Homo sapiens: one gene and its partner. The protein of the gene in region 2 purifies or fractionates together with the protein of the main gene of each other region. This does not show direct contact. Each region holds a gene or a part of one and is shown on either strand. Other genes may lie near its edges.

Region 1 (4,678 bases), on a different chromosome or scaffold from region 2:
AAACATATTAAGGTAGTGGTCAAGAGCATAAGCTCTACAATCAAACTTCAATAATTGTTGTATCATTTATCAACTTGCTTATCTGCTTATGTACAGAAGTGGGCAAGTTATAAGCCTCTGTGCCTCAGTTTTTTAAATGTAACAGGAGGATAATAGCAGCATCTATCTCATAGAGTTGTCAGAATTCTCTGAGCTGATATATAGAAGGAACTCAGAACAGAACCAGGCACATAGGAAAGTTCCAAAAGTATAACTATTGTTATTATCCAATTCCTCTAACAGTGTAGTATGCCCAAAACCTATGGTGCTATAAGCTCACATGAAAGTTGCCTGTTTGCAAAATTGAATACTTTCTTTTTGAAAAATATTTCAAGTGGGGCCCTTCTCTGTCTTCACTGCTGTGTCCTAGTGCAGATCCTAACATAGAATTTTGCAATTGCCTACAAACTGTCCTGGCACTCTTTGGCAGTCACCGTACATCTGGCAGTAATATTTATAAACAACTGTCACCATCTTGCTTAAAAGTTCTCAATAGCTCCCTGCTGCCTACAAATACACAAGGCCCTTTATAATCTACTTTTAACCATTGTTTCCAGTTTTACTTCTAGTCACTTCTCTGAACAGCTGGAGCCATAACAGAAGATTACTTTGTCTGAAATAGGCCATGAATTTTAAGAGACCGCATGCCACTGTATATGCTTTTATGTCTGAGAAAACTGCCCTCTATACTCCCAGGTCAGGAAAACTATTCATCCTTCTAAAGCCTAGATAGAATGCCACCTTATACATTTATTCAACAAAACAATTTACTGAATACTAAAGTATGCAAAGAAGACCCTGTGAAAATAAACAAGACATACTTTTGACATTTGGGGAACTTATCTCTATAAGGAGAGAGATATGTTAAAATATAATAACATAGTATATTATCAATAATACACGTAAGATATAAGTAAGCAACGCCTAGGCTGGGTTCCAGAGGATATGAATTTCTCTGTCTCCATCCTTACCTTTCCAAAATTGAACCATGATCTTGAAAACTACCTTTTAATTATACTAATACACTATATTACAGTCCTGTGTTTAATATCTTTCCTAAAACTGAAATTTTAATGCAGAAATATATTCATCCTTTGTATCCTCAACACCTAGAGGGTGACTGGAACCTAAGGGAACACAACAAGTGTTCATTGAATTGAATTAGATAAATTAGGTTTCCATATTGGCCAAAAACCTTTTTAACCCGTAATGTGGCTGATCTATAACAGCAAGAGAACCTTAAAACCTAATCAGCATTTATAATAATACGCTGAAAAGTCAGAACAGTTCCAACTTGGAATTATCCAGTATTTGAATAGAAAAATCCAATTTGGCCAGGTGTGCTGGCTCACACCTGTAATCTCAGCACTTTGGGAGGCCGAGACGGGTGGATCACTTGAACCTAGGAGTTCGAGACATGCCTGGGCAACATGGCAAAATCCCATCTCTACCAAAAAAAAAAAAAAAAAAGAAAAAAAAAATTAGCCAGGTACAGTGGTATGCGCCTGTAGTCCTAGCTACCTGGGGAAGCTGAAGCAAGAGGATCGCTTTGGGGGGCGGTGGGGGAGGAGGTCAAGGTTGCAGTGAGCCCTGTTTGTGCCACTGCACTCTAGCCTGGGTGGCAAAGCAAGACCCTGTCTCAAAAAGAAAAAGAAAAATCCAATTTGTAAGCAGTACTGACATTTTGCTCCAAATATAGCAAATATAGTACTCTTCCCTTCTTGAACAATAGTGTTTGAACTAGTCTAATGAATTTAAAAAATATCAGAACCAGAAGTTCTAATTTTGGCCCAACAAATAGTTTGTTTTCCTTAACAATGTGGCAGGAGATGAAGACTCTAATTACCTAGGAATTGCAGTAGCATATGACACTTTCTTCTTGGTCCTGGAAGTCCAGGTTAATTCATTCATTTACTTAAATATCTGTGAAGGACCCACAAGGCAATAGGAACTGGGGATACAGTAGGCTCTATTTTTATGGAACTTATATTCCAATTGGGAAAGCAGCAAATACATACATCAAATGGTTTGGGCAGGGTTGAGAAAAAATAAAGCAGGGCAATAAGTCAAAAAGTGAAGAAAAGAAGGCAGGAAGAAGAGTAGTGGTGGTACGTTACATAGGGTAGTCAGGGACAAGTCTCTCTGGTAAGGCACTGGATCAGAGGCTGGTGAGGGAGAGACATGCCAAGCATTTGAAAACTATTCTAGGCAGCGGAGCCAACAAATGAAGAAACCATGGTGTGGGAGCATGTTTAAGGTGTTAAACACAAGCATACCGGTATGGCATGATTACAGTTAGTGGTTTGTGAGGGGCATATTGGCCTATGACAGACAACCTGGCCCAAATCATACAGCCTAAGGATTTTGGATATTATATACTGAGATGAGAAGCCACTGGATCATCTCAAACAGACAGCGGGCATAATTAGAAATACGTTATAAAAGAATAGCTCTGTCTGTTTTTTGGGTATCAGCTGGTACAAAGGAGCAATAACTGGGCAGTAGGAAGTCAGGGATTACCTGCAATTCCTTGTAACCTAATAAGCTGGTGCCAAGAATGATGGTAAAGAGGAGCAACAGACACAGCATGGTTGAAAGCCTCAAAAACACATCCTTCCTTCCTTTTATTATCAAGCGTCTCTGAGAGACATAGTTATCAAACACTACCAGTTTTTAATCGACCTTAACCACCAAACTCTTCTTTCATTCACTATTATTTAGTCTCTAAAACACGCACACATCTACCGCACAAAAAGTCAAGTACACCCCCTTCTTCCTCTTACCTCTTTTAACCTTTTGCTTCTTACACCCTATGAGACCCATTCTTCTCCTGTTTTCAAGTACCCTCTTCCTTTCACCCTTTGCTACTGTAAGTTTCTCGGTAGCTGCAGGTGTTTCACCCATTTTATTATAATTAATAATGGTGACCCTGAAAATACCTAGTAAAAGAATGTGGAAACTCAAAATTACAGTTGACAGCGTTACTTCTCTGAACACGACTTCCCCAAGCCTCCTCACTAAGCCAAAGTCGCCCCTCTGAAGTGGTGCCAAGATAAAACCCAGGTGGCTAGCAGCAAATGAAGTCGCAAGCGCTGCTTGACACGAACTCAGCCCCGCCTTTCCTCCCAGACACCAAAGCTCAGCCCTACCACATTACCTTCACTATCAGAAGTGTCTGTGGCCTCGTCTTCCAGCACCGACGCTACGGCTCCAGTTACCATTTTCATCTTCTTCTTTGGGGTCTTTTTCAGGTTTTCTTCCTCACTCACACGTGAGTCCGGAGCGGCGGCTGCCATTTTTCTGCGCCGGAAGCGTCACCTGACAGTTGCGTCCGGTGGCAACCAGAGGAACTTCTGCATTTAGTGCCGGTAACACAAGGTTCCGGGGCGGGGTCGTCTAGCCCAGAGTTCCGGGGCCGGAGCCTCAGAATGTGACTTGGAGAGAGCTCTGAATGGCTCGGTGTGTTTACGCGAAGTCCGTTCCAGGACGAAAATCAGCGGCTGAATGGCCTCAGCCGACTCCTCCGCTAGCTCGCCTGTGCCCTGGTCCTCCGCCCCAGTGCGTCCCCAGCCCGTCCCCAGCCCAGCGCGGTCCACTTTGATTTCCTAGCCTCGGCGGCTTCCCTTGTCTGCTGCCTTAATGTTGGTTTAGTGTCCTCCTCAGGTGTCTCTTACGTGCCCACTGAACGCCGCAGCAGCTAGGACGCGGGACAGATCCACTGGGGGCCGATAATTAGAATACGATCGTATCATCCCCCCGCCCAAGATAACACGCGAGACCTTTCTTGCAAACCGAATAGACTCACCTTCTTTCCCTGGGGCGGGTGTTGAATCCAACCGCACCCTTCTCCCTCGGACCCGGCTGGGGCCTGGAGGGTTTCTGGCGCCCGACTGCGCAGTGCAGACCGAGGGTGCGAATACCTTGCTATCCGCGCGAGGATCCTGCCTCCCACCCGGGGCTAGCTTTTCTCTGAAGTTAGCCTCTGTCACCAGCTCCTAGTTCCATCGAAGCACCTACCACAGTCGGCCTTCATTTTCCCCCCTAAAATGTTGGCTTCTCGCAGGAGGGGAACGTATTTCATTTACCATGTCCCCTCAAGGTTAGCAACAGAAGTTGGCCTGAAGTGAATTTTCCAAAAATATTTTTGGAAGGGATGAATGAATCAATGAATGAGTGACAGAATATAACTATTGACAAAGTTAATGACTCAGATGGATAATGCAGCAAACCTTTACTGGCTAGACTTGTTCTAAAGGCTTTCCCCAAACTTAGCGTTTTCCCTTTCCCCTCTTAAGGAGGTTCATAGATTGTGATACCCATAAGTCAAAAACAAAAACAAGAATCCTCATTTTGACATATTCCAGTAGATGTTTATGTAGGAAATAAATATATATTCACATCCTAAAAACTCAATACAACATTTTTAAACTTGGTTTTTAATTTTTTTGTCTTTTAAGAGAGAGAGGGTCTAGCCGGGTGCGGTGGCTCACACCTGTAATCCCAGCACTTTGGGAGGCTGAGATAAGTGGATCGCTTGAGTCCAGGAGTTTGAGAACAGCCTGGCCAACATGGTGAAACCCCATCTCTACTAAAAATACACAAATTAGCCAAACGCAGTGACGAGTGCCTGTAGTCCCAG
Region 2 (4,619 bases):
ACTCTAGGCAACTGTAACACAATGGGAAGCATTTTTGTATCTAAACATATCTAAACATGGAACAAGTACAGTAAAAATATGCTATCATAATCTTATAGGACCACCATTGTGTATGTGATCCATCATTGACCAAAACATTACATGGCACATGACTGTATATCTTCATAGAAGCTGCTCCTTTTCCTTAAGTAGTAGTGTGAGAAAAACATCAATTAAGAGACACATACGAGGAATAAGGATGTTGCTATTATCTACACTGCATTAAACATTCAAGCAACTAAAATGTGTAAGAAACCAAATAAAAGGAAAATAGTTATCACAAATCAGAGCCTTGAATCAAATGTCTTATTTACTCTGACTCAGTCACTCTACCTCTACTGTATTTTTGCCAAAGTAGTAGTCCTTAACAGTTAAAAAAACAAACAGAAAACAAAACAAAACAAACACTACATATATCAGATAGTCCCACTTAAAATGGCAAACCAAAAAAAAGGGACATCTCAAAGTTTTCCGGTGAAAAAAATTGAAAATGTATTATGAAAGGCAACATAAACAGCAGTGAAGGTGAAACTTGAAGACCATACTTCCAAACTCTTTGTAATTAAATTTCATAATTTTTGCAATAATAAGGCTTATATAAAACTCTTTGGTAACTAAATAGTATAACTTAATTAATGCTTTGTTCTTTTCTCTTTTAAACTAATCCAGTAAATTCCACAGAATACCAGTTGCTACAACATCTCAATTTTACTCAAGAGCAAAAACAGCCATGTAACAACCTTGCTATTTATTTCAAGTCCTACAAACTACTCTGAAATAGTTATCCCAAAATGCCGAACTATTATTTATTAAAGAATGTTTTCAAAAATAGTTATTCTACATGATATCAAGACACAAAATCATTAAAAATTATAGGATTATTTTAGTAATTTAACAATACCTGCCTTTTTTTAATTCAAGAGTTTATTTTCTTTATAGCTCTTTACAGAACAGACTGTTCCAATAGTTTGATAAGGAAGCTGGAGGTATTCCTCAATTAACGGGAACACAACTGTTTCAGTATAATTAAGTAAACCACCACTTGATGTGTTACCCTTCCATGAAAAACTAAATCACTTAGGCACCTACCCTGTAAAACATAGATCTTCTCTTTGTACTCCACAGCATTATGAAATTCCATTGCAACTGGCATCGCGCAAACAGTCGTCCAACAATTCTCTCTACTGTCGTAGCACTCAACAGATTTTAGTGAGTTTCTCCCATCACCTTCATAAACACGACCTCCGATTGCATACATTTTACCACAGCAATAGACAAGTTTGCAGCCTATTCTGGCTCGAAGCAAGGATGGTTTGGATAGCCATCTATTGGTGGAATGATCATACATCCAGAAATCATTTTCTGCCTTATGGTCGATGGAGACCTCACTGCTGCTTGGCCTGTACCCTCCTGCAATGTAAATGTCATTATCTGGTGATACAAGAATCCCAACTTCTCTCAGGTCATTTGGTGGTTTGCATAGTTTAAACACCCTTCCTGTGACTATATCTAGACAAGGCACTGTTTGCTTCTTTCCTGAGTGTTTGTGGGCAGCATCAAAACATATGATCATTTCAGAAGCAGTCATTCCAAGCCTCTGTGTACAGCCATTGGTGTTGGATGGTCCCTTTTCTACACAGCTTTTGGCTATAGCCTGTGCAAACTGAGGTGGAATTTTCTCTATAAAGGTATCTTCCATCAGAGGAAAACGTATGCATTTAGCAAAAATTTCTGGAAGGTGCACTTCTCTTTCATTCTGTTCATGCTCAAACCACCTTATAATGCTTTCATAAACATGCTCTTCTCGGTCTACATTTAAATCGTCACTGTCTAGTATACTTATCAGTTGGTCTTTTGTCAACTGGAGAAACTCTTGTTCTTTGGTGACACACAGAAACTTTTTACGAATGTATTCTTTTGATCGATCTCCGAGTTCCTGATGACCATAATGATCAGCAAAGATAAAGACCCCAATAGAATTCTGTGGGTCCAAATGACTGATCATATACTTAGCACATTGGTCTTGGATGGAAGGAATCTGGAAGATGCTAGCTGCAGTGAACAAGGCTTGAACATTGGCCTCTGTAAGAATAACTCTGGAAGTGTAGGCATAGTTCAACACTAAATCCATCGATTCAGCTTCAACACCAACTATTCGAACTTCTTTTTGAGTACTTTCTGTAAGGCCGCTAGTGAACATGGATCTAAGAAGGAAAGAGTGGTTAATATTACACGTGTGCTATAAATCAAAATTATTGTGGCAAGATTTTAAAAGTACAAAGTTACCACAAAGATAACCTTTTGAAACAGAATATTTCCTAAAATAGTCCCTGATATTCTGAATAGGAGTAAAAATTGATAATGTATCAGAAGGATTTAGTCTGGCTAACCTCAAAACCCATATTCTCAGGGCTAGCTCGCTGTGTGCCAACTATGAAAAAAGGAGAGTACACCTAAGTAAATGCAAATCAAAAGGTGACACACATATTCCAGGTCACTTTATTTTCCTAGAAGCCCCTATCCAGAGTTCTGGTCAAGTTGCCTTAGGGACATCAGATCTTAAATTGGGCCATGCCAGTCAGAAAGCTTAAGAATACTGGCCCGGTGTGGTGGCTCATGCCTGTAATTCCAGCACTTTAGGAGGCCAAAGTGGGTGGATCACATAAGGTCAGGAGTTCAAAATCTGCCTGGCCAAGACGGTGAAACCCCATCTCTACTAAAATAAAAAATTAGCTGGGCGTGGTGGCACATCCCTGTAATCCCAGCTACTCAGGAGGCTGAGGCAGGAGAATCGCTTGAACCCGGAAGGCGGAGGTTGCAGTGAGCTGAGTGCCAGCCTGGAAGACAGAGTGAGACTCCATCTCAAAAAAAAAAAAAAAAAAAAAAGAATACCTATAAAGGTATCAACATGATACATTAGCATACAAAGAAACAACCTAATAAAAACTTTTCATGTCCTGGTGAAAATTACAAGGCAACTTGTATCCAAAATATATCTTTAAAATGTTCATCTTAGAAAAGCAAGAAGTTCTTTAAAAGTACATATTCTCCACCTACTCCTTTTTAAAACTGTCATCTTTTGAATGCTGCCTTAACCATTATAAGTAATATAATAATCACTTCACTTACCCTTGGAAATTTTGAGAACATTTGCTTAAAAGGAAATACTTCATTTTCTCAAAGATACCATATTTTACCTACCTAAATCTAGACATAAATAAAGATTATGGTAGAGTCAATACATAATGCCTGTTTTAAACAGAGTTTAATAGTTAACTGATTCTTTGAAGATAATGGTTTTTAAAACCCCAAACTTTTACCTTCGAGACCAAGTTGGTTTTTTCTATTATTAAAATATTGTTGCATTTATGGGATTTTCTTGACCGAAACATTAAGCAGCCTGGCTCTTTAAGTATTAGTCACTTGCAAACATCATTTGCCTTTCTTTTCGCTCCTTTAAAGTTTCATTCTAGATGATCCAGACTCATCCTATTTAATTTTTGTGATCTTATGAAAAATGAATTGCAAAGATTTCCAGTCACTTAAAAAATATCTCTCAAATTCATGGAATTAATTTTAAAATGCAGTATGAGAAACACTGGAGGTACAAGGACTCAACTTGCTGCCCAGGTTAATCATCTTCGAGTCCTGTTTTTACTTCTACAATGTACATTTTAATTTAGTATCACACTGGCTTTTTTGATGACTAAAAACTAGATGTTCCTACGTATGTGCTGGTTTTCAATTCAGGTGCTGAAAGACTCACCGATACAGCTACCAATTAAAAAGAAAAATAAAGCCCTGCATTAGGGAGACATTAACTCCCAAAGGAAGACATTACCACATATCCCTTTATCATGGGAACTACTGCTGACTTGAATAGGCTCATCTTACACACAGGAGTGGTCTCACACTTCATGAGTTTTCCTCTGTTCTAGTAAGTTCTTCATGTAAACTCAACATAAATGAAGCCAGGGCACTTCCTCACACAAAATCCAGAGCAGCAAAAAATTTCTAATAATCATACAAATTTCAATTCTGATGAGTTACTGGTATCATGAAACAGCCATTCCAGATTTCCAGCCGTTCTAATTCTTCCACTAGTGATGCAAGACGTAGAAACATTAAGTACGATTTTCTACATCCCACACAGGAAGCAGCGCTGGTACCAAGAAACTTCAGTACAAAAACCTCTAGCAAGAGATCAAATTCTAATCCTTGAGGTTTCTAGCCAAATATCTTTATTTCAATGCACATATCGTATCCCCAGAAAATTTCTCAAGTATTTTTTACTCCTTTTAAAAATTGACTTAACAAAATTAAAGAATTTAAGATTTTAAGGAATCAAGAAAATTAGAAATCTATCATAGCATACTTCTTTTAAAGTAAAATTTTTTTCCAGGTCTTCAAAAATAAAAAATGAAACTGCAAGGTGAAAATGTCATACTTATGTAAAGTTACTAATAAGTATACTTACTAAGTATTATACTTAATAAGTATACTTAATATGTATACATATATCATATTTATTATGTATGCTTACTAAGTATTATACTTAATAAGTATACTTAGTAAGCATA

The links. The genes of interacting proteins can lie anywhere in the genome.
Region 1: the proteins of KBTBD8 (region 2) and RRP15 purify together in Homo sapiens (affinity purification with western blotting; one study listed by BioGRID). This does not show direct contact.

What each region holds. Positions count from the first base shown.
Region 1 is NC_000001.11:218,283,974-218,288,651, reverse strand, and holds the start of RRP15 (RRP15-like protein), read right to left. Parts: upstream 3,360-4,678; 5' UTR 3,336-3,359; coding exon 3,197-3,335; intron 1-3,196.
Region 2 is NC_000003.12:67,000,819-67,005,437, reverse strand, and holds part of KBTBD8 (kelch repeat and BTB domain-containing protein 8), read right to left. Parts: intron 2,244-4,619; coding exon 1,129-2,243; intron 1-1,128. UniProt on the Homo sapiens protein: Substrate-specific adapter of a BCR (BTB-CUL3-RBX1) E3 ubiquitin ligase complex that acts as a regulator of neural crest specification.